Linked DNA regions of Homo sapiens: regions 1, 3, 4 and 5 are each linked to region 2. The links come from fine-mapping of genetic effects on gene expression. A gene starts in region 2. Each other region holds a variant in brackets. All regions are shown on one strand. Distances are between the middles of the regions.

Region 1 (5,109 bases), 65 kb after region 2:
CAGCCCACTACAGTAGTCAAGGACACAGTAAAAGAAAATCAGTGATAATTCTATTGTTCAGAGAAAACCCACTGTTAACATTGGAATGTATTTGTATGTGGATATTTGTGGAAATACATGTGTGTATACATGAGATCATATTATATCTAATGTTTTATATCTTTCCTATTTACCTTTGTTTCATAAACAGTTTTCCAGGAAAATATAGTAGTAGTTCACTGAGTGACATGTACTTATAATTATACAGATGTAAATTACACTCTCCCAAATGTGTTTGTATTTCTGGCTCACTTGTTTGGTTACTTTCTCCTCTGAAGTTTATTTTCTGGCCATAATATTTGCAATGCTAAGAGAGAATTCTGTTTGTCCCAACTTTAGAGAAGTTTAGGTAGATGAACTTGTGGAATGGCTTTTTATAAAAAGCAAATTTCACTTTATTTTAGGAATTTCTTGTCTGAATAATAGCTTTATTGAGATATAATTCACATACCATAAAATTACCCATTTAAAGTATCCAATTACATTGTTTTTAGAATACTCACAGTTGTGCAACTTTAGAATATTTTTCTCTTCTCAAACTCAGAATATTTTCATTATCTCAAAAAGTAATACTCGTTAGCTGTCACCTCCTTATTCTCTCAAATGCTGGTATTTATTCCCCCATATGCCTTATTCTCTAAGCAAATACTGATTTACTTTGTAGAAATTACCTATTCTGTACGTTTTACAAACATGAAATTGTATATGTGTGGTCTTTTGTGACTTCTCCTTTCCCTTACCATAATGTTTTCCAAGTTCATCATTTGTGGCATATGTCTGTGTTTTCTTCCTTTTTATGGCTGAATAATAGTTTCTTGTATACATATGCCACATTGTGTTCAACCATTCATTAGTTGGACATTGGATTATTTCCAACTTTTTGGGTATTATGAATAATACTCTTGCACTTGTCTGATTGTTACATAAGTCTATTGAACTATAATTTCAAGCACAAGTCATATTAAGAGATAACTGGCTTGGATGGGAATAATTAAATGTATGGTAGGTTTAGGTAGCCAGAAGTCAACACAGAATTACTGGATGGGAAAGAGGTCATTGAAAGGATTGGGTGTTTGCAGAAGCAGAGGTAAGATATCATCACAGTTCTACTAACATTTTGCCACATAGGTTATTTTGTCCAATGTTGTGATGACAATTTCCTAGTGCCAAGTTTGTTCTTTGTATTACTTAGAATAAGAAAAAATGCCATACTTCTGTTTTACTAATTGGCAGCTATTATCATTTATATAAATATTCTAATTCTAATTTGGCATTTCTAGATTGAAATAAATATTTATTTATTTATTTACACAAATGAGCATAAATAAAGGAGGTAAATTATCTAGTAAATTGCCTTTCACAAAGTATTATATATTGACACCAACTACTCTAGGTAATTAGAATAATGTGATAATGCATCATAAATCTCTTAATATTTTATTATTGATCTATTAATATTTTATTATTGCCTTAAAGCTAAGCTTTGTTTTGTTAAATGAGATATAAAGGAAAGCTGCTGCTTTTTTCTTTTTTGGAATGGAGTCTCACTCTGTCGCCCAGGCTGGAGTGCAGTGGCACGATCTCGGCTCACTGCAACCTCCGCTTCCTGGGTTCAAGTGATTCTCCTACCTCAGCCTCCCAAGTAACTGTGACTAAGGTGCATGCCGCCATGCCCAGCTAATTTTTGTATTTTTAGTAGAGACGGGGTTTCACCATATTGGCCAGGCTGGTCTTTAACTCCTGATCTTGTGATCCTCCTGCCTTGGCCTCCCAAAGTGCTGGGATTATAGATGTGAGCCACTGTACCCAGCCAAGCTGCTGCTTTTATATAACACTGGAGGAGACAGTAGGAAGGACTGGACATGTTTGGTGACCTGGAGTGTGGGGGCATCTGCTTCAGGACACAAGCCCTAGCCAGCATGGAGGCTCAATCCAAGAGGTTAGGGCCACTTCATCCCAGGTGAAGGACCCCCAGTCACAGCCAGGAATGCCTAGCACATGCCTGCTTATAGGTAACCACCACATCCATCTTGAGATGCCCACACCCAGAGGCCTGGCAAGAGCTCCACCCAC[C/T]GACTGAGATTTGACACACAAGTCTGAAGGTCCCAACTCCCTCGAAGATTCTTTTCAACCATGAGGACTAGTGAGTGGGGGGCCCTCAATGTCTCTAGACATTGAGGTGAATTGAAAGATGCAAATTCAGGTGAAACAATCTTTATCTCATTCATCTTAAGAGATGAAACCCTTAAACCTTTATGTTCCCTTTCTCCAGGTGTAGATTGCTAAAGTAAACTCTTTGTATCCTTGGATTTTCTTTTGTTTGCATTTTTGGCATGCATTTTATATTATGTAATCTCACTCATTTGTTAGCAAATGTGTGTTTTATGATTAGAATTAGGTGCTAATGTAAGAAAATCTGGCTAAAAATCAACATGTATAAAAACAGTGGTTTTATTTTTTACATTACAAAGATGTGAAAGACAGGTGTCACTTAACAAGGCATGCATTTTAAACATCTCTTTAAAAGTCTATCAGTAATCTCTTTTTGGTCCATTTTTATTTTTAAGTCATGGTGGTGGTATATTCTCCTAATCTAAGATACTGGGCTCCAAGTATTTACATGTTCTGAGTAAAATAAACAGATTTCATAAACAGTAGATTGTTATTTGTTTATTAGACAAAAGTACATTTTCTTCCTGCAAGACTTAATTTCTGTTATAAAACATGTTTTGGCTGCATCCATGTTAGTTCATCAGTGTATCCATGCAAGGTGAAATGGAAGGGGCAGAGCTGAGATCCCAGCATAAGCCAGCCTTCTATTACCAGTGAGGCTTTCTTTGGAAGTGAGTGTAAAATTAAAGAATATCAGATATTATTCTAGAAATTAAGGGAAACGTATGATTAACTTTTATTAATTTTTGTTGTGACTCCCTCAGAACAATGACTAGAGTAGCCAGAAACCTAAGTCTGCAAAGAGGAAATGCTCTTGTAAGAGCAATATGAACCAGAAGTCTATTTATGCTGTAATTATATCCCAAAACTTCAAAGATAAACCTTTGTCCGTGCTCAAGATTTTTAAAAGTACATCATAAATCTTTTTTAAAACTGTCCCCCTAAGCTACCTTCCAGGAATTCTTAATTACAATGTAGTGAAAAACCAGGAAGTCAACTCCTATTACTCATCTGTCTACTCTTAAAATTATAGTTTTACATCCCATTGTATCACGTTTTACAAGTGATTATAAAAATATAGTAAATCAAAGGGTGAAAGTGATTATTCCTACTTTACACTACATAAAAGAATAAGCCAAACCACTCCTCACCATGAGCCATAAACATTCAAGAATTTTAAACAATGGAATAGAAATTGAATTTACTATATTTAACAATGGATATAATTGAAATGGAAAAAAGGGCAGAGAAAGCTTAAATTTGTCGTATTCAAAATTTATGACATTAAGAAACCTGAGCAAGCAGTATTTTTAAGTGATTTGTATTTAATTGTTTGGGTACACCGAACTTCTGAAATATTCTTGTTTTTAAAATATTCTTACTTGTTTTGAAAATTTCTGATAACTTCAGAAGTGCTAGTATGTAAAATGTGTGTTATATGTCATCTATAACATATATACATAAACATGCATATGTATAGATTATAAATGTATATCTCTGTGTATACTTACACAAGTATCTGATGAAGCATCTTTTAATACTGGGTTTCATCTGTTGCTTTTGGTCACTGACACTTTACATAACAGGCTTGTAAGCAGAGCTAGGATGTATTTTTGAGGTGATGTATCTACAGTATATTAAATGTGATATAGTACATGGCAATTATGTTGCTTTATTGTTTCAGATCTAGAATGTAGGTCTTGCGTGTAGATGTAAGCCCTTGGGTAACACAGCATAATCTTTCTAATGTAATTAAAATAAAGCTGAGCCCTTCAAACTCTAGATAGACTTACTTTGGTATCTGGGCAAATAGTGTTTCTTTGAGAATGAAGCAGTGATTAGATGCAGATATTCTGAATGGTTGACAGGAGAGAGAACTAGAGACATATTTTCTACTCCAGGTTGAACTGCTTGATAGTTTGGAAAATGTTGATCAGAAATGTATTTTAGACAGAATGTGAAGCTTTGAAATCACAGGCTTGGGTATGCATCCTGGCTCTAACACTTCAAACTCTGTGTTATTTGGGTTAACTTTATTAATCTCCTTGAGTCATGATTTCAGTTTACGCATTGCACATTATGGGCAACTATCTCATCTTTGAGAAAAAAATAAACATAAATGATTATAAATTGGCACATATAATACAAAAGTGATATTATGGTCACTATGAGGCTTTTTTTGAGAATTGAGTAAAGTCATGAATATAAAACATCAAAAACAGTGTCTGTCATATAAGGGACATTCAAAATATGGTGTCATTATTCAGTAGGTGCTCTCAGATTGCCAAACTTTTATTTGCTAAGGAATTATGATTAATTCATTCAATAGAGCTTGAAGGTTATATTTGAAATTAGTATTTATTTCTCAATCTAAGCCTATCTCAAGATGATCCCAGCTCCAGCTTCTTGATCATTTTTGTATTTCCCTTATGTGCAAGAGGCACAGAATCTGGTTTTACCAATCCCATAGTGTCCAGTGTAATGCTAAGATACAGGAATTTAAGCAAGTGTTCCATCAGCTCAAAAGATAATTTTCTTTTTAAGAGATGATCTCCAGGTAATTTTATTTTTAACATGTGCTTGTATTGAGCAAATATTTATTGGGCAAATATTATATGCCAGCAATTCAGCAGCAAACAACATATCAATTCTCTGCTGTCACTGAGCCTTACTTTGCAGTGGGGATAGGCAATCAGTAAACATTTAAGTGTAGATATGTCAGTTGGTAATGAGTGCCAAAAACAAAAATAAAGCAAGAATAAAGGGTTAGTGAACCTAAATGCACCTGTTGGCAGGTACTATTTTACCAGCCTGGGAAGGATTTGCTGAGGAGGTACATTTGAGCTTCAGGTGAGAGTAGCTAGTTGGAACAACTAATACACAAGCACAAATATACAC
Region 2 (5,109 bases):
TGACACCCCCTCCCCCAAATTATCATTGTTAACCACCAAGTGTATTCTTTAGTAAGAATTTGTGGTAATACTCTTCATGCATGCAGCAGCAATGGGCACTCCTTCTTAAGGTTTAAGAAAACATGAAAACCACAAAGAATGTCTGAAATTATTTTCTCTTGGTTGGCGGAACAGATGCCTTTCATCAAGGAAAATGCCTTTGGCCAAAACAAAGCCATATTCATTTAAAATATATTGTTTAGTAATTGCACAGACTCTGGATTATATAAAATTTACTTTCAATGCAAAGATTTCATTTTTCTAGAAAAGGTTAACAAGCAAAATAGAGCAGGAAGACAGGCAGAGGATAATGTGTTAAAAGAATCAACTACGTCAAGGGCAAGAGCAGTTCAAGAAATGACAATGCAAGTACATTGAAAGGAAATTGGCCAATGTGGATGTGATTTTGTCTAGGGGTCATTCAGGAACACCTGGCTGACTTTATTTATAAGGCGATTGTCAAATCAATCTGTAGAATATGGATGAGGTGAAACGCAGAGGTAGAGTATTATTCTAGATCATCTGTAACTTTTCAAATACAACTATCGCACTGAAATTCCAGGGAGAATGTAAGTGACTCCAATAAAGAAACCTGTCAGTCAGTCAAGAGTGTTTATTTATTATCCCCCTGTGCCAAGCAATATTCTAGCCAATATGAAATGATACAAAATAAAGAGTAGTCATCACCCTTCCAATCTCCTGAGAGCAAATGGATTACATTTGCAGACACACACACACACACACACACACACACACACACACACACCCCACCTCTATGTGGGTGGTCAGGAAACTCAACTATATGGACATATAACAATTTCATTTAGAAAAGTGCTGATTAGAAAACTAAACTTACAAAATTAGAAAAACTGGAGAATAATGAATTTTATGAAAAATAGATTACAATGGATTCATAAGGCATGCCCTTTATTTAAGTCCCATTATGTTATTAAAATTGGGAATAACCCTTCACCCTCACAAATTTACAAAATATTTTTGGAACACATTATGCAAATATGGAGTCACACTGGTGTTGTGGAGCTGCTAACTCGAATAAAATACCATACTTGATAAAAAACCTTCTGTCCACTAAACTGTAAATGCCTTAAAGTCAAAGATCAGGCCTTATTTGCCTTTAGTGTATATTTAGTACTCTGTAGATAGAAGTGGTAAAGGGATAAGAATGAATGAATGAGACAGGCGGGTGAAATTTTCAAGAATGAGACAGATGGGTGAAGTTTTCAAAGGTTTCTAAAAGGGAAAAACAAGAAGACTAGGATATTCCAAGCAGAAAGGTCTGGTTGGTTGGCCCCAGTTGGTGTTCGCATATAAGAAGAGGGCTTGGCATTTTCCTCACCACTGAAGAAGGATCAGCCCCTGGTTTGGTCCAGTAAGAATATGTTCTTGCCCAAATGCCACTCCTTAGTTTCAGGGACATTGCTATTTTGGTTTTCTGTTCCAGCCCAAGTGTTCTTGATGGTCGAATTGTTTGCATTGACTTTTTTTCCACAAGAAGTTGGGTGATATTGCTGATTTGCCTGCCATGGCACTTCCTTGTTTTCATTTTGATTATTACTCAAAAATAGCTTCATTTTAAAATTCAACTTTTCTGACTCTCTGCTTGTGCCTTTAACACATTGACAATGATTTTCTGCTTCTCCACAAAGAAAGCACGTTGGATCCTGTCACAGACATATTTAGCAGACATGGAACCACCATAAGCCCTGCTTGGCATGTGTGTTTCATTTCAGACTACCTCATGAGAACTTTAGGTCTTAAAGCATCGGCCTCTCTCTCCAAGTCAGCCTGAACACAAGCCACAAGAGATTTCAGTTCTTTCTCGACCTTTTTGGTGTAAATGTAAACAATTCTATCACCAGGGGTTCAGGGCAGCCTAGTTTTGTTAGAGGCTGTATTGTAGGAAAGTCCAAGGTTGCAGGATCATTCTGAGTCCCTTAGACACCATTCTCAGAAGAGCTTGCTATTAGCTTAATGCTGCCCAACTACTACGTATGCTTCACGAGGGCAGGGACTTTTGTCTGTTTTCACTGCTACGGCTCCAACCTCTAAACAGTGCCCGACATAGTAGGCATTCAGTAAATATAGTACTTGTTAAATGGATGTTATTTTGGCTGCCTTTACTTTTGCTTTATTTGTCCTGCTTTACGGAGCTGGAAATTGGAGGAAAGCCTTTGAATTCATTTCCCTTCTTCCTTCTGTTCTGAAACTCTGGCCAAGGGTCCTAGCAAAGACCTTAGGGAGTGGGGAGCCCTCCTGGAAACTAATGACAAGTCAGGCGACAGGGGGCGGGAGAAGGAGAGCTGCAGGAAGTTCTTTCCCACTTACTTCTGCAGCACCCTTCACCACCCATCGTGCTCTGTATTTGGGGTTAGAGGTGTTCCGTGGAAGGGAAAGCAGGGGCCGCCTTGGCCGCGTTCCTCTCCTGGGCCACCGGGGTCTTGCCCACAGCGAGTCCCGCAGCACCCCCTGTCTGCGCAGCACCTGTTGACAGCCAGTGGGCGGCCAAGCCCGCTCGCGCGGACGCGTCCCAGGGCTGCCCCTCCCAGAGGCGCTGACCCCCGCCCGCCCCATCGGCCGCCTGCGGGAGAGCCGCTGAGCCGCCCCCGCTCGCCAGGCGCGCGCTCCGCCCGGGCTCGGCCCACGGCCCCCACCTCCTGTCTGCCGCCCGGCGGGGGGAAGGTAGAGAAGGGGAGGGGACAAGCCGGATCCTCCCGGCCGCCCCGGCCTTCCCTCTTCACCCCGTGCGGAGACGCCGCGCGTAGCCCCGAGGTTAGCGCGGAGCCCGAGGCGTGGGGGGAGGGGACGGGGAACAACCGGAGCCCCGCGGTGACCCCGAGCGGCCGAATTGCCCCAGGCTTTGAGGAGCGGGGGACGAGCCCGAACAAGGTGAACTTTGGTCGCGGAAAACTCAAGCCAGGTGCCGGAATCCGTGCTGCGGCGCTCCGAACCCGGGGCCAACTGCGCTCCGGGCTGAGGAGCGGGAGCCCCGCGGCCTCTCTCCGCCTGCGCCCGGGCCGCCGTCGGCCCGGAGCCCCCCGGCCCCGCTCCGGCGCCCCGGCCCGTGGGACCCGCCGCGGCGCCCTCGCCTTGTTTCTTCCCCCTCCCCCTTCGGGGGTGGGGGGTGGGGCGGGGGAGAGGGGCGCCCGGAGAGCCGCATCTATTGGCAGCTTTGTTATTGATCAGAAACTGCTCGCCGCCGACTTGGCTTCCAGTCTGGCTGCGGGCAACCCTTGAGTTTTCGCCTCTGTCCTGTCCCCCGAACTGACAGGTGCTCCCAGCAACTTGCTGGGGACTTCTCGCCGCTCCCCCGCGTCCCCACCCCCTCATTCCTCCCTCGCCTTCACCCCCACCCCCACCACTTCGCCACAGCTCAGGATTTGTTTAAACCTTGGGAAACTGGTTCAGGTCCAGGTTTTGCTTTGATCCTTTTCAAAAACTGGAGACACAGAAGAGGGCTCTAGGAAAAAGTTTTGGATGGGATTATGTGGAAACTACCCTGCGATTCTCTGCTGCCAGAGCAGGCTCGGCGCTTCCACCCCAGTGCAGCCTTCCCCTGGCGGTGGTGAAAGAGACTCGGGAGTCGCTGCTTCCAAAGTGCCCGCCGTGAGTGAGCTCTCACCCCAGTCAGCCAAATGAGCCTCTTCGGGCTTCTCCTGCTGACATCTGCCCTGGCCGGCCAGAGACAGGGGACTCAGGCGGAATCCAACCTGAGTAGTAAATTCCAGTTTTCCAGCAACAAGGAACAGAACGGTGAGTCTTTCCCCCATTCTCCCCCTGCTTGTTTCTCGCTGTGTGTGTTAACGTTGGCATTGTGCGTTGGTATGTGATATATACCAGACTGTGAAGGTATCTTTGGTCTCTCATTACATGCAAATGTGCGCTGCGTTCATTGGCATGGACTGTTAAAGGTTAAGTGTAGTTTGCAACTTCGGGAGCTGCCACAAAGCTCCAAGAGGGCAACGTGAGTGCCACTGCTGAGTGAGGACATTCTGGGAGCGATTGTGAACGTCATTTCAAATGCACATTGCAGGTTCGCTCATTGCTAAAGTTAGAAGTTCAAGAACTGCCTCTAAAAACGAATCCAAAATGAATGAGCCTTGGCATGTTTGACTTTACTCAGATTTGGGGAGGGCGAGGGGGGTCGGTCAGGAAATATATCAGCCGCATTAATTGAAGCACTCTAGGTCGAAGTCATCAATTAATCAATGAGTAGATAGGAAATATAGAGGTCAAGAGGCTGTGTGGTCGTTTTTAGAGGAATTAAAAAGTGTATTTCTCTTGCTCCCTAGTTTTTGTTTTTTAAACTTGCCTTTGTACTCTGAAGTCCTTACCTTTCTGGTGGTGTGTTTTTGTATGTGTTGGTGAATGACTGCTATTTTGTGTGTGCTGGAAACGACTTAATCCTGCATAGGAAATGAGAATTACTTTCAGCTTTCAAGTGTACCTGAAATGTTTAGAAAACTCTCAGATGCAAGTTCCCTTGGGCTGGGATTGCACAGAGCTGGAGAAAGGCTCCTTTCATAAAGCCAGGGCAGCTTCAGGGTGTGTAATTTGCTTAGCCTCTGAACCCATATGATTTACATCATTCAATTTCTAAACTCTTTTTCTCTTCATCTACCATTATGAAGTCATTTTTGAGAATACTTTGTAAATAGAAATTTTATACTGCACATGAAACCACAATGTTCATGTTAGGCTGTCTAAAATTGGAATATTTAACGCCCTGTTTACAAATGGTGGCTCTTACTGTAATTTGAAAAGGAATATACATGTTTTTACTGCTTTGTATATCATCTATTCAGAATGCAAGGATTCTGTCACTTGATTAACCATGCAAAATGAACACAAGTGGCATACCTACAAAATTAAGATAGGATGTGCTATAGTTTTAAGTCAGAGTGATTTTTTTTCCTTTTCATATTGGGGTGTTTCAAGACTTCAACTTTGAATTTAAACTCTATGAAGTGTTCATGTTTAAGAAAGCACAGAAAGTTTTAGGGTATAAAAGTAGATAAAATAAGGATTCTGCCGACTTTTGCAAACGTTATT
Region 3 (5,109 bases), 190 kb after region 2:
CTTTACTTTTTACTTCTTCCTGCTTTTACTTTTTTCCTGCAATACACTTTACCATCTAACATTGTATGTGCATTATTTATGTTGTGCATGGTCTGTTTTTCTCCAATAGAATATGTATTACATAAAGGCAGAGATATTTACTTCTTTTGTTCACTGCTTGATCCTCAGCACCTAGAAGAGTGTCTGGCTCGTATTAGTTGCTCAGTATGTATTTATTGCAAATGAATATATATTACATAAATGGTGACAAGATAGATAATCAAGAGCCTATTAGTGTGGTTATGAATGATCATATTATGTTGATTAGGGTAATGGTGATTAGTTTCACAGTACCGTATCTGAAATCAGCTGAAGCAATGAAAGTTTTAGGGAAATAAAGATGATTTCAGAGCATTGTACACTTAGGGCAAAGCGATACAGAATAGAGGGGCAGGGTAAAGAACAAGGCAAAGAAAAGAATGTAGGAAGATATTTTTTCAATTGACCTTGAACTTTGTGGGAAGATATTGATCAACTGACCTAGAACTTTATTAAATCTCACTGTGACTTTGCACCTCCTGAGTATTCTAGCCCTGCCCAATGTAGACATTAGATTCTACATGGAAAAAAATGTGCATTATTTTAATAGTCCCGTAAGTTGATCCTAGTTGATAGAATTTTACCTTTTGTAACTGCATGAATGTTACACTTTGAAGAGTCGGTCATCTCTCACCTGTACTGACAATGCTGTTCAGTCACCCCTTTATCTGATGCTGGCTGCTCCCTTTCCAGACTGTTGTGCACCCAGTAGATTCCTTGCATATCAGATTGAGAACTGATGGATCTACTTTTAGAAGTTTATTAAACTTAGGGCCGGGCACAGTGGCTCACATCCGTAATCCCAGCACTTTGGGAGGCTGAGGCTGGCAGATCACCTGAGGTCAGGAGCTCGAGACTAGCCTGGCCAACATGGTGAAACCCCATCTTTAAAAAATACAAAATACAAAGTGCAAAAATTAGCCAGGTGTGGTGGCGGACCCCTGTAATCACAGCTACTTGGCAGCCTGAGGCAGAAGAATCCCTTGAACCCTGGAGGCAGAGGTTGCAGTGAGCCAAGATTGCGCCACTGTACTCCACACACCAGCCTGAATGACAGAGTGAGACTCCGTCTCAAAAAAAAATTCAGAACAGTAAGATCTTAGCCTGGGTGTCCTTAGTCTCTGCCTATGCAGAATGTGAATCATCCTGTTTGCTTTATAGTTTATATCACAGTGGCAATCATATCCCTGAGCTGTTAGGGATCAAAGTTTCTACATTGTTCTCATGTACACTAAAAATTATTGAGAATAAAATGGACCACTGTACATACATAAAGTGTAATCATTTATTTAACAGCCTTCCAATTATGAACATTTGTTTTAAATTTTATTTTTAATTTTCTCTATTAATAATGCTACAATGACTATCCTTGGATTATACTTCTGATTATTTCCTTAAGATAAAAATTCTGAATATGGAATTACAGGATCTGAAAAAATGGACACTTTTAAGACTGCTTGTGGAAAATATTGTTGAATTGTCTTACAGAAATACTTTGACATTTTAGTCTTCTTTACAGTTCATGAGAAAAATATTTTTGCCCCGTCTTGATCTACAATTGACATTAACTCTCCTCTGTCTTCTGATTTCTTTTATTCATTGGCCTTCTTTTCTAATTGCAAATATACACGTATTTCTGTACTTATTATATTAAGCTTTTTTCTAATCTTTCTTCTCATAAATCTATGATTCTTTCTTATTTTTTTCTCCCTGCCAAACTTAATGAAAAAGTTCTACTTGCTTTCTCCATTTCACTGCTTTTTAACGGCCCCCTTTCTTCCTTTCTTACTTCGATGAAACTTCTCTATTCCTAAGGTCACAGAACACCACCTGTGGAATAGCTACAGTGGCCTACTTTTACTCCTCTTTCTTGTTGATCTTTCCAT[T/C]ACTTTGATGTTATTCTCCCTCTTCTACTCCTCAAAACTCTCTTCTCCTTGGGAGGAAAAATCACTAAGACCTCCAGGCTCTCTTCCCGACCCTTAGATTGATCTATTTTGAGACACCAGTGCTGGTTGATCCAGTGCCTTGGCCATTGGTCTAAGTATGGGGAAATCCCATTTTCCTGTCTTCTATCCTCTTTTCTTTTCATGTGTGCTCTTAGCTCATGGCTTTAACATTTGACATTTGTATATGTTAATGATTATCTTTCTCTATTCCAAGTGAGTCCTCTATATTTAATGCCACAAAAATGTTTGCAGTTGTCTGCTGGATATATGCGTGTCAATACACCTCCACTTATTATAAATTGACCCAACCTGAACTTTTCCTTCTTTCTTACCAATTTTGCCTGTATTACATAGTTATGTCACTGTTAATGCATTCCCTGAAGCTAGAATCATTTAAAATTAAGCATATCTCTTCTCTCCCTGATTCCCCATCCCACCAGCTACCAATCCTGTTGGTTCTACCATGGTCATGTACTTTGCCACCCTTCTTTTCATTTGTTTTCCTCAATGGTGGTAATCAATCAGATCATAAAGCATACTCTTTTTAGCACTTCATTAATATTCTGTCAGATCCTGAATACTATTGGAGATCAAAATATCCAAAAGACATCAAGATTTGGCCCCACCATGAAAGAACTTCGAGGCAAGTAGGAGGGACACGTACAACAATTTCAATTTGATGTAGTGCTAGACATATGAACAGAATGGTGGATCACAAAGGTCGACCAGCTTAGAGGTAGTCGTGTATATATAGAGAGAGGTCTCACTAGTGGAAGCCTCCTGGAGAAGCTGAGTCTTTATTAGTGGGTAGTGATTAGCCATGTGACAAGGCAATAAAAGCAGTTATTATTAACAAAGGGCAACATCAGGAGCAAAGGTTCAGATGCCAAAGCCTTGTTCATGGCTCCCACCAGAGTCTGCACACCCCCTTCTCCCAACCCAAGGCACCTCCTCACCTAAAATAGAAGTAGAAAGCCAGAAAAATTAAACTTGTATGTATCCCACCTTCCTTAACATCTCTTTTGACTCTTGTACTGCTTTGTGATTAAATCCAGATTCCATAGCATGGCACACACAAAGCCTTCCCAATCAGACCCCAATTCATTCCTGCAGCCTCACCTTCCACCATCTACTCTCCCCCTAATAGCAATGCTTTGTCACAGTCTTCATCTTTTTCTTCACCCAACACCATTTTTTTCCAACTCAGTTTCTTTGTAAATATCTAAAGTGCTTCTCCCTTCTAATCTATATAATAATTACTTTCTAATTCTCTAAGCTCTAGATTAACTTTGATCTCTTCTTTGTATCACCTCCTTAATTCTCTAGGCAGAATTAATCACACTCACAGCACTTGGGTTTTTACTTCCGTTATAGTCATTACCTAAAGGACACAGGTTTTTCCATCAAGAGATACGAACCTCACAATGGCTATATTATTCATATTCTTCATTTGTTGTGAGCACGTGACAGGAGTATAATATAGTCTACTGAATGATTTAACTTTTTATCTAACCCTGTTTTCAGAGCCATATCTTGCTTGTATCAATAGAAGAAGCCTTTTCAGGTGTGTTTGAGGTGACCGTACCAACTTTTCACAAAAATATTCTATGTTCTCTGTTGCCCCTGGTGATCGTTTTGACCTGCCCAGAATTCTGACCGTGAGACACAATCTCATTTTAGTGTGGTGACCGACATGTAAAAACATGACCAAAGAACATATAACTGTTTATGCTTTTATTTTTTGAAAGTGTTCAGATCTGTGCATGAGTACTAAAGATTTTATGGCAGAATAGGGATGTCACAGAGTGATTTAAAAATGTAAAAAAAATGCCCAAACACTTCACAAAATAATTATCATTTATATTTTTCTCCATTGTTGAAATAGGAACGGCATGCTAACTAGTTACTTTACAGAAGTTTCTTTTAATGTAACACCGTACACTGTAATTAAGATACCAGTGACATGGTGGGCCTCAGAGTTGAAATCCTGCATTTTGCATAGGATTTTTTGTTGGTTTCATTTCATATAAAGATTTTATAGGCAAAGAATATGAATTCAGAAAACCGACATAGGATAAGTGAGCAGCCAAGGGTATCATTATGCTTATTTTTTAAGTTCTTTAGCACAGAGGTATTCGTAGCCATAAAGATTAATTTGCTGATGTGTAATGCCCATTTCTCCCTCCAGAACAACTACTGAATATAAATCTGTTTTAGAAGAGAAAGAAGTCTGTTTCAGAATTTTCCTTGTAGGGTTGGACAAGCTCTGATTTGCCACATCAGTCTAGAAAGAATGTTGGGTGGAGATGTCATTGAACGCTGCCTAATGAGGTCATGCCACTCCATGTAACACAGACCAACATCAATCATGAGCTATATTTTTTAAAATAATTATTTATCTTTGCTAAACTTGGTACAACTTGGGTAATTAAATATATAATAAAAATGTGTATGATAATCCCTAAATATGTATAGTGCTGAATTGTTTATTAAATTTTTAAAATATGCTATTTTGCTTAATCCTTATACCAGTTTTCCTAGGTAGGTGGAATCATCCCTCCTTTGAATACCTGTTCCTACAGACACACACATAAATGAGGTGTTCACCATGTAATTTTGACAAACGCCCCATTTTCTATGGCTGGTAGGTATGCCTCCCCTACCCTGAAGAAGAGAGTACTGTTTGCATTGTCAGCAGTAGGAGAGTTAGTGAGTGCCTTCTGACAGGATAAAATGTACCTGGGAGGGATGAATGGCAGGTTGCAGGAGGCATACTGCATTAACCGAGGCTTGTGAAATCTGTACAAAGCCCTTCCATTGAGTTCCACTGTGAATAATCTATAGAATGTTTAAAATAAAGGCCATTTTTTAAGTTTGAAATTTAAAAGCAGGATATTTTTCTAGAAAAGTAATTGGTATTTTTACTAATACTCTATTGACCATTTGTTGTAGAATGTGTAAATTTCTGTTATTTAATTCAGACAACAATGGCAAAGGCATTGTTTAACAGGGAGACCAGTTAGAAGACTGTTTCACATGTTGGCCTGAATTGTAAAGTGGCAGCAATGGAAGTAGGGAAAATGGT
Region 4 (5,109 bases), 36 kb after region 2:
CACAAATTGCAGACCCAAGGAGGGCTGTATTCTGTACTGGTTTTGACCTCTTGTTAATAGGAATTATGATATTTGATGGGATTGTGGTTTTTACTCCAAGTGAATTTGGTTTTAAAATTTAAAATTACTATACCTATTTTAATACTTAGATTATTTTTCTAAGGATTGAACAATATAAAATAAATTGTATTTATATTAATAATAGTTTACTTATATTATTTATAATGTTGTTGTGCTATTATATTAGTATGTTCATTAAAGTATTAAATATACAGATCATAGATAACTTTTAGATTTTTCCTTTTGAATAAAGTGCCTAAAATTCACTTGCAAATAACCACTTTTAATATTTTCTTACACAGCTTTTTATAACTTTTTACATATGAATACTTACTCATATCTTTATTTTTTACAAACATGAAATTTTATATGTATGTTATTAAACATGCTTTTTAAAATCTGAGTTTTGTCAGTTTTTTAAATATAAATATTGACTTGTTATTGCCATGGTTCTTACACTGTTTTAGATCATTTGATATTATAAAGAAATCTATGGAATATTTCCTTCCCTCAAAAAATGTATCTGCAAGAAAATGTATAAAGTTTTATGGGTCCCAGGACCATGAATCTCTGATCAAGAGCCATTGGTCATGTCATCAGTTCTTAACTGCTTCATGGATTCTAACTTAAGTTTACACAGCTTAAGTTTTATTTAATCAGCACGTTATGATTGGATTCTAGGATTTTTTTATTTAGCGCTTAGGATCTGCTCTACAGTGAATACCTTGGTATCTACATACCTTTTACATATCTCTATATTTCTTTCATTAGAGTGACTTCCTAGAACTTGAATGATTGGATCAAAATTTTACCTTTTTTCCTAGTATGTTATGTATGTGTGTGTGTGTGTATTTTCATATAACAAACTAACTTAAAATTGTAAAAATTTGTCCTTTCGTAAGAAATCTGTATGTAAAAGTACTGTTTCACCTCATTTGGCATAATTCTCCCAATCTTTGCCAACCTGATACTACACAAATTTAATATATTAATTTAGTAGGTTGTAAATGTATCAATATTAAGCACATTATTAAAATTGAGAAGAATTTTTAGTCCCTGGTTTTGTTTCTCTGTAATTTCTTCATTATTCTCTAAAGAACTTTATCTTAAGGTAATTTTTTTTTCCACCATGAATCAAGTTGCTACTGAAATACATTTGCCTTTCAACCAATATTAGGGTTGTATTGTATTGTGTAAACACAGGAAATAGTTTAGAGATTTCAGGCACTTTAGAAAATATGTTTCCACCATGTTCAGATAGGTGAATATGCCTTTCTTATTTATTTATTTAGAAAAGTTTTGTTTTGTTGCCCAGGTTAGGTTGCAGTAGCACGATCACAGCTCACTGCAGCGCCAACCTCCTGGGGCTCATGTGATCCTCCCACCTCAAGCCTCCTGAGTAGCTGGGACTAAAAACTGCCACCATGCCCAGATGAATTTTTTGTATTCTTTGTAGAGATGGGGTTTCACTATTTTGCCCAGGCTGGTCTTGAACTCCTGGGCTCAAGCCATTTGCCTTCCTCAGCCTCCCAAATTGCTGGGGTTACCAGTGAGCCACCGTGCCTGACCACCTTTCTTATTTTTAATTATTCAAGTAATTTCTTTGAATCTTCACTTAGGGTTTCATTGTGGTGGTCTCCAGAAGAAATACCTCATATTGGGTTTGCGGTGGAAAGATAACAAGATTTTTTCCAGCTTTAGACATAATTTTATGCGTTCAAATTATTGAGAAACAAGAATCAATGCTTTAAATGATGATGTTTCCAAGATTGCATCCTTGATCCATTCTCTTAGTATATCCTTTTCTTCAGAAATGCCTTCTATCACTATGGCTTCAATAACCATGTATTTATTGATAATTTCAAATCTCTTTTTTCAGCACACACCTTGCTTTTTTCACTCAGACTCATCTGTCCATATGCGTGCAGTGCTGTCTACGTGGATGTTCCCTTAGTGCTTCAAGTTTGACATGTTCAAAACTGATCTTATTTCTCAGCTCTTAAATTTGGTTCTGGTCATGAATTCCATTGCATAGAGCATAATATTTTTCATCAAATTGTTCACATCAGAAACCTGAGTCCCTCTTCTTCGTTCCTATTTTCAAATGTTTTCCAAGATCTGTTTTTGCTGCTTCGTTGACATACCTTAGGCATTCCTTTCAGTCCCCTCTGCTGCTTAGTTCAAGGCAATACGATAGTATTCCTGATTACTGCAGTAATCTCTAATTTGTCATTCTTCTTCCATTCGTCTACTCCATCCCATCCATCAACAATGGTGTCCGACATGTCAGTCTTTTAAAATTTCTTCACAGCTCTGCTTTGCGTTTGGATAAATTCAAGTTCCTTTGCAAGACTTTTCAAATATTTCCTCTTTTTCCAATTGCCTTTTCCTGATTCTTCTCTAGTGTTTCTTCTATCCTACACTCTTCATCTACCTCATGATCTAAATACATGGAGAAGAACAGAAAGCTGAGTGCTGGGATTGGTAGGTTCCAGAGAAAGGGTAAAAAACTGTTGTTGTTGTATTTTTTAAGACAAAGTAATCATTTATTAAACCAACTAATTGTATTAGTTCTTCCCTCTCCTTTGGTTAGGAATGAGTTGAGAGGTGGAGGCCAAGGGGGAGAGAGACCTGAAATGTGGTAGAAATTCTCCTCTGAGAGTTTCCATTTCTCCCAATTTTGATCCATTCTTGAGATGCAGTCAAGGTTTGAAGTTTGAATACTCTCTAGGGGAACAAGGTCCTCCTCATAGTACCTGAAGAAAGATACTTTTTGAAACTCATTCTATTACGACGTTGGGTGGATACTGATTTCACTAAAAGACAGATCCAACTGTGATGGGAAGTCACAGAGCTAGCAAGTAGCAAGGTGTTTTTAGTATTTTCTGACACCAACCAAAGAGAGTGCTTATTTATATTTTAATATTAATCTCCAATGACCATAACA[G/C]GAAGAGGAAAGATACTGATTTGTAATTACAACTTCACATGTATTTTCGTTCTAGCAATTGTCAGGTTTTTTCCTCCCCTGTCTATGACCCCTAAATAGTCAGTATATAGATTTTATAAAATGTGTACTTGACATTTTAATTTCCTTGAGGGCAGGGACCTTGTATAATTTTGTATTCATGTTGTTTAACACAAGATCTAGCATATACAGTGTAGTCTCATTTTTCATGGTATTGATGGTCTGTAAAGCCATTGCAAACACTAAATTAATGAATAATGAACTGTTGCTGCTATGGCTCTTACAAGATTAGGTTCCTGCGAGTTCCTGGTCACAACATATTCGTCAGCTGATCAATACAAACCTTATTTTATGTGTGTTTCTGTATAAAGACATCTTATTTAATATATAGTCATGTGCTGCATAACCATGTTTTGGTCAATGATGGACCACATATATGACAGTGGTCTCATCAGATTTTAATGGAGCTGAAAAATTCCTATCCCTTAGTGAGGTTGTAGCTGTTGTAATGTTGTAGTGCAGTGTATTACTCACATGTTTGTGGTGATGCTGGTGGAAACAAACCTCCTGCACTGCCAGCCCTGTAAAAGTGTAGGACATAACATTATGTATAGTGCATAATACTTGATAAAGATAATGAATGACTGTGTTACTGATTTTTGTATTTGCTATACTATTTATTATTTTAGAGTATATTCCTATTACTCATATTTAAAAAGTTAACTGTAAGTCAGACATGGTGGCTCACGCCTGTAATGGCAGCACTTAGGGAGGCCAAGGCGGGCAGGTCATGAGGTCAAGAGATCGAGACCATCCTGGCCAACATGGTGAAACCCCGTCTGTATGAAAAATACAAAAATTAGTTGGGCGTGGTGGTGCACGCCTGTAGTCCCAGCCACTCGGGAGGCTGAGGAAGGAGAGAATCGCTTGAACCCAGGAAGCAGAGGTTGCAGTGAGCCGAGATCATGCCACTGCACTCCATCCTGGGGACAGAGCGAGACTCCATCTGAAAAACAAACAAACAAAACAAAACAAAAAAACGTTAACTGTAAGAAAGCCTCAGGTATGTTTTTAGGACAGATTCCAGAAGAAGGCATTATTATCATAGGAGATGACATGTCCATGCCTATTATTGCCCCTGAAAACCTTCCAGTGGGATAAAATATAGAGGTGGAAGACAGTGATATTGATGGTCCTGATCCTGTGAAGGCCTTGGCTAATGGGTGTGTTTGTCTCTTCTGTTTTTCATTAACAAAGTTTAAAGGTAAAACAAAATAAAAAAAATTTAAAATTAGAAACAAGCACATAGAATATGGATATAAAGAAAGAAAATACTTTTGTGTAGTTGTGCAATGTGTATTTTAAACTAAATGTTATTGCAAAAGAGTCAAGTTAAAAAATTTAAAAAGTTTATAAAGTAAAAAGTTACAGTAAGCTAAGGCTAGTATATTATGTAAGAAAGTAAAATATTTAACAAATATATTTAGTGTAGCATAAGCATTTAGCCTTTATAAATTCTACAAAAGTGTACAGTAATGTGCTAGGCCTGAAAATCACTCACCACTCACTCACTGACTCACTGAGAGCAACTACCGGTCCTGTAAACTCTGTTCATGGTAGGAACTCTATACAGGTGTACCATTTTAAATCTTTTATATTGTATTTTTGCTGTACCTTTTCTATGTTTAGATATATAATACTTACCGTTGTATTACAATTGTCTACAGTTTTCAGTACAATAACATGCTTGACAGGTTTGTAGTCTGGGAGCAGTAGGCTGTACTACGTAGCCTACGTGTGCAATAGGCCATACCATTTAGGTTTGTTTAAGCATGCTCTATGATGTTAGCACAATGACAAAATCGCCTAAAGACACATTTCTCAGAATATATCCCAGTTGTTAAGTGACTCATGACTGTATATTGGTGATTCATTAACATTAAGCACAAGGCACTATAATTCATGCCTGAAGGAAGCTTATCTAACACACATATTTTCTCTGTAAAGTCATGTGTTAGTTCATTTTCACACTGCTGTTAATATAAAGAACTACCTGAGACTGGGTAATTTATAAAGGAGGGAGA
Region 5 (5,109 bases), 200 kb after region 2:
GAATGATTGAACAGACATGGTGTAATATTATCCTTTGTTTGCTCCTATAATAGTTAAGTGGAGAAGTTGATGGCATGTATTAGCATTCTAGGGCTGCCTTAACAAAATACCACAGACTTAAACAGTGGTGCCTTAAACAATGGAAACTTGTTTTCTCAAAATTTTGGTTGCTAGAAATTGAGATCAGGGTGTCAGTAGGTTTGGTTTCTTCTGACACCTCTCTCCTATACTTGTAGATGTTCATTTTCTTCCTGTGTCTTCAGATGGTCTTCCCTCTCTACTATGTCTATGTTAAAATGTTCTCTTACTATAAGAACACCAATCATGTTAGATTAGGGTCCACCCTAGTTACCTTATTTTACTGATCTCTTTAAAGACCCTGTCTCCAAATACAGGCATTCTGAGATACTGTGAGTAGGACTTTAGTAGAATAGAAATTTTGAGTGAACTCTAATTCAGCCCATAATACAACGTGTGTCTATATTCATTTAAACATTTTTGGTATCAGTTTTCTAAGCACGGACTTGTTTCCTTCAGATTTTTAGGACCATACTGCTTCTATTTATAAGCCAGACATGCCTTTCTAGGATATTTGATGTCTTAAAGAGCAGGGTAAACTTCATGTACTCTCAAAATTTTATATATATATGTAAATGTAGAATTATCCCACAGTTGTACCACAGGGCAGTGTTTCCCAAAACTCACTCATCTGCTAAAACAACAAGGAGAGTTAAAAGAAAAAAAAAATAGAGTTCAGTCCCATTATAGACTTACTAAGTTGTTTATTATATTTTTGAAGCTCTCAAGATAATTTTGCTGAAGCTGTATTGGACCCTCTTGTATCTGATAATTAAGTAGAATTTTTACATGTAAAAGCTGGCAAGAAACTTGAAGGTCATTGAATATAGCTACCATATTTTGTAGTGGAGGAAACTGAGGCACAGATTGATTATGCAGTTTAGTCAAACTCTCTTCCCTACATGTGAGTATCTCTGGGATTTAGAGTCCAGTTCCTTAACTCCTGATCGTAGTTCTCTCATTATCATGTTGTCATTCAGAGTAACTTTCATCAGAGAATTTTAAAGACCCGATTTTGCATAGGATCCTTATCTCATGGAGCTGACATCTTAGAAATGTACTCTTTGGCAGGACACTTCATCACATAGATTGTAGATGCTTTTCTGCTCTTTGACAACCTGTCCTTACAAAGTAATAGGCCTAAAAGGGTCTAGGCTAGGGCCACACCCTCACCAAGCTTGTCATTACTGCCCTGCAGGTGATAACACAGAAGCTTTTCTCTGGCTGAATAAGGGTTTTGGTTTAGTTGTCTACATTGCAGAACACCAAGAAACTCTGCTTCCGGTTTGTGTCCATTGCTATCCACTAAATTGTCTTAGCACAACCTATAGCTTAAAAGTACACCATCATATTTTTATGAAGAATAAAAGACATAAACAGGAAATGTGAAAATCCAAGTCAAGGCGTATTTTGCATATTCTAACCAGTTTAACAGCCCAATCATAAGTGTTTTTAAATATCAAAAGTATTGTTAGAATTTTCTAGATACTAATTATGGGAGAAAATGCTATTAGTCTGTAATGAACAGTGTTACTTTGTTAGAGAGAAAAGTAAAACTTAAAAATTCAAAGACATTTTTTTTTCTGTAACTTCTTTTTTTCATTGCTCCCCCCTTTCTCTCTGAGAGTCCCTTTAAACAACTTAGAAAAGCAGAACTTTGAAACTGAACAACTCGGCTCTTTCTTGAACCAGTGGGTGGAGGGACAGTCATGAGAAGGCCCTTAAATAGAAGCACCACTTCCCCTGTTCTGTCCAGGGATTGATTCTTTGAATCCTGGGAACTTATGTTCATTCTTCTTTCCTGTTTTCTGGGTGGGGACCACTGTGTGTGGGGTGTGGTGGGGAAAGAGTTGTCTTTCTAAATTTATCAAATTTTAATTTAAATATTTAGAAGCTTAGAGATTTGTAACACCAACTGATCTATACATACAGTAACAGAAGATGCTTTTCTCCCAACCTTTCACATTTGAAGGGATGGGTATGCAGATTGCAGATACTTCACTGGACCTAAGGTGTGCATCTTTTGTTTGCCCATTATTACAGGCTTATCTTGTTTTGCCTTCTTTTGTGTTAATATTTTGGACTGCATCTCAGCAATATTAATTTCAGTTAGAACTTTGTATTGCTTCAAAAGAAATGCTTTATTCAGAGAGTCTCCAACAGACTGGAAGCAAAATAAGCCAAATCATTCTTGGATTACAGTCTAATTGAAATTACCCTACATA[G/A]CAATTATATTTTATGCTTAAAATATACATCTGCACCCTGACAATTTAATAAATAATGTATACTTTTTGTATTAACTTGCTAGCAACCACTTATTTTATCTGTACAGATTTTGAAACTTTCCATTTGTAATAATACTGATTCTTTGACTATTATTGACCCCTTAATTTTTACTTTATAAAACATTTGTATACATATATAGGCTTATATTTTTGAAATATGCAAAAATTTGCGTTAACTTTTTACACCATAAATTTAATCAATAGTAGCTTAATTAGCTAAATTAAAATTAAAACCGTTTTTAGATCAATGTTTATATCTATAATAGAGTTTTCAGTCATAGTTCTGTCAAAGCAATTTTGTGTTCCTTGGACAATTATAGAAAACACTGGGTAATAAAAACATATTAGGGTAATAAACTCTCAAAGTTTAACAGACTAATGGGTAGAGCAAAAATATCATAAAATAATTAGAAAATATCTTAGTCCTAATATTTTAGCCAGATCCTTGACATTATTGAAATTAAGTCTTTAATAGTAACCATTGTACTGTATATATATGTACTTACACATTTTCCATGTATCTTTGCGTATCTTTGTTTATTCTGTAACATCATGTCATAAACCTCAGATATACAAAATAAAACTTATTTAAAAAACAAAAAGATGAAAGGAGTAACAGCTGAGTGGAGACTTGGAAAGTACATGTGAGTAATCCAGGCAAGGAAGGAGGCCAGACATTGTCATTCCACTGTGCTTTTCTCATAATGCACACACAGGCCCTGGAACACTGTAGTTACTCAATAAACTTTTGTTAAAAAAAAAAAAAAAAAAAGGATGAAATCATTGTTGGCCCAAGGCTGCCACGTTCATTTCTGCCGATTATACCCTGTAAGAATGTTCCCCTGTGGGCAGCGGGACACCCACAAAGCCAGGAGCCCCACGAGGGTTGTGCCTGTCCAGAGGAAAGGTGCTCCTTTTCCTAGTTTACTGGGCAGCTTCTGCTCTTCAAGCCAAGTGCTCACAGAGCAGCCCACAGAGGGCTGTGGGACAGTGATGACCCTGTTGTGCCAGGTTTCATGGATGAATTGGATTTTTGAAAAGGTCATTGTAATGGTAAAGATTTATGATGTGGATCAACGGGGGGAGAGTTTTTGCATGTCAGGTATGGGGACAGATTTAGCATAAGTTACAAAGTCTGAGATGATATTATATGTGCAGTAGTCAGTGAAGAGACTAGACTGATTGGAACAAAATATGCATGTCTCTGATGAGTAGCAGATTAGAGTGGAAGGTGAGCAGAGGTCAGTTTTTGAGGGCTCTGAATGCTGTGTAAGGAATTTGGATTTTATCCTCCAGATGAGAAATCACATAGGCATTTGTCCAAATTCATCATAGGATCAGTAATATCTTATTTAGTAGATTAACCCAGGATTATGCAGCATAGAACAAAAGGAGAGAAAAATGATTAAAGGTAAGGAGATAAGGTTAGAAGCTGCTATTTATAGTACATGTTTTTAGTATGGAGCCCAGGATGGAAGTAATGAGAATGAAAAGGAAGAGCCGATGTGTTAGTGTTTTCCTATATGTGGGCATTTAGATTGCTTCCAGTCTTTCTAATCATTGAACATATTTCCATGTGCATAAGTGAAAGAATATTCAGTGCTTATCAGTTACATCAGCTAAAGTGTTGTGCCTACGTACACTAACTTCTGCAGGCAGAGCAGAGGAGTTCCAATTTAATCACATCCTCAGTAATCCTTTTTAAAATTCTTGCCCATCTCATCTGTGTGAAAAAGTATCCTTTTTTCGTATGTGAAATAATATCTCTCTTTGGATTTCTCTGATAATGAAGTTCAGCATATTTTCATATGTTTATTGACCATTCAAGCTTTTTATCTGTAATATGCCCATTTTTCTTCCATTGCATTTGTCTTTATTTTTGTATATTCTGGATACTAATCTTATGACAGTCACATAGTTTGTCAGTGTGTTCTCCAGTGTCCCTCCGATCTCTTAATCTTGTTTATTAGGCATTTTATATTAAAAATATATTGTAGGCAATTTATTAAGCTGATCTTTTATGATTTAGATATTTTCTATCTTGATTAATAAGTTCTTTAATGTCAAATGATTTCTAACTATTTTGTTCTAGATCTTTTGGGTTAATTATTTCTTATTCCATTTTTAATTTATGTGACACTAATTTGCATAACTACCAGGTAATTTTTCAGATTAAGGAAAATGAAAAGTGGAAAAGAAAAGGAAAATTTGGTAAACTGTATTATAGTTTTCATTCTAAGTTTGTAATTGAACCATGAAGATATTTTTAATTCTTTTATATGACCAAAAGATATCCATATCCCTCACGGTTGGTGGTAATGAAAATTAATGTCTTTCTCATTGATTTTACAGGAAATCTATCAGAGTTCATCTTCATGAAGTCTTTGCAGAGTAGTTATTTCTAATTGGATTCAATACAATTTCCCTTCACACATATTTCCAGCCTCAGTCTTTATAATTTCTTGCATATGTCCAGAAGGAATACATTGTCGTTTTTAAAACAGTTAACACAGGATTCATTTTACTTTCAGCAATTCACAGAAGCTGTGAGTCCTTCAGTGCTACCCCCTTCAGCTTTGCCACTGGACCTGCTTAATAATGCTATAACTGCCTTTAGTACCTTGGAAGACCTTATTCGATATCTTGAACCAGAGAGATGGCAGTTGGACTTAGAAGATCTATATAGGCCAACTTGGCAACTTCTTGGCAAGGCTTTTGTTTTTGGAAGAAAATCCAGAGGTAAGCT

Evidence for each region. PIP is the estimated chance that this variant, and not a neighbour inherited with it, causes the effect.
Region 1: its variant is fine-mapped to the expression of PDGFC in whole blood (TOPMed, PIP 0.96).
Region 3: its variant is fine-mapped to the expression of PDGFC in blood mononuclear cells (TOPMed, PIP 0.92).
Region 4: its variant is fine-mapped to the expression of PDGFC in whole blood (INTERVAL, PIP above 0.99).
Region 5: its variant is fine-mapped to the expression of PDGFC in whole blood (TOPMed, PIP 0.95).

Annotation. Positions count from the first base shown.
Region 1 is chr4:156,904,629-156,909,737 of GRCh38, reverse strand. All of the region lies in intron 1 of PDGFC (platelet derived growth factor C), which reads left to right. Among named protein-coding and RNA genes, the nearest start is that of PDGFC, 65 kb to the left of the region's middle. The variant C/T (reference allele first, on the strand shown) is at 2,113.
Region 2 is chr4:156,969,487-156,974,595 of GRCh38, reverse strand. It overlaps PDGFC (platelet derived growth factor C), which reads left to right and starts at 2,797. Exons shown (of 6, transcript NM_016205.3): 1 at 2,797-3,810. The coding sequence starts at 3,693. RefSeq lists an enhancer at 2,510-3,010.
Region 3 is chr4:156,781,255-156,786,363 of GRCh38, reverse strand. All of the region lies in intron 3 of PDGFC (platelet derived growth factor C), which reads left to right. Among named protein-coding and RNA genes, the nearest start is that of LINC02272, 140 kb to the right of the region's middle. The variant T/C (reference allele first, on the strand shown) is at 1,965.
Region 4 is chr4:156,933,940-156,939,048 of GRCh38, reverse strand. All of the region lies in intron 1 of PDGFC (platelet derived growth factor C), which reads left to right. Among named protein-coding and RNA genes, the nearest start is that of PDGFC, 35 kb to the left of the region's middle. The variant G/C (reference allele first, on the strand shown) is at 3,008.
Region 5 is chr4:156,772,679-156,777,787 of GRCh38, reverse strand. PDGFC (platelet derived growth factor C) reads left to right here. Exons shown (of 6, transcript NM_016205.3): 4 at 4,895-5,102. Among named protein-coding and RNA genes, the nearest start is that of LINC02272, 130 kb to the right of the region's middle. The variant G/A (reference allele first, on the strand shown) is at 2,304.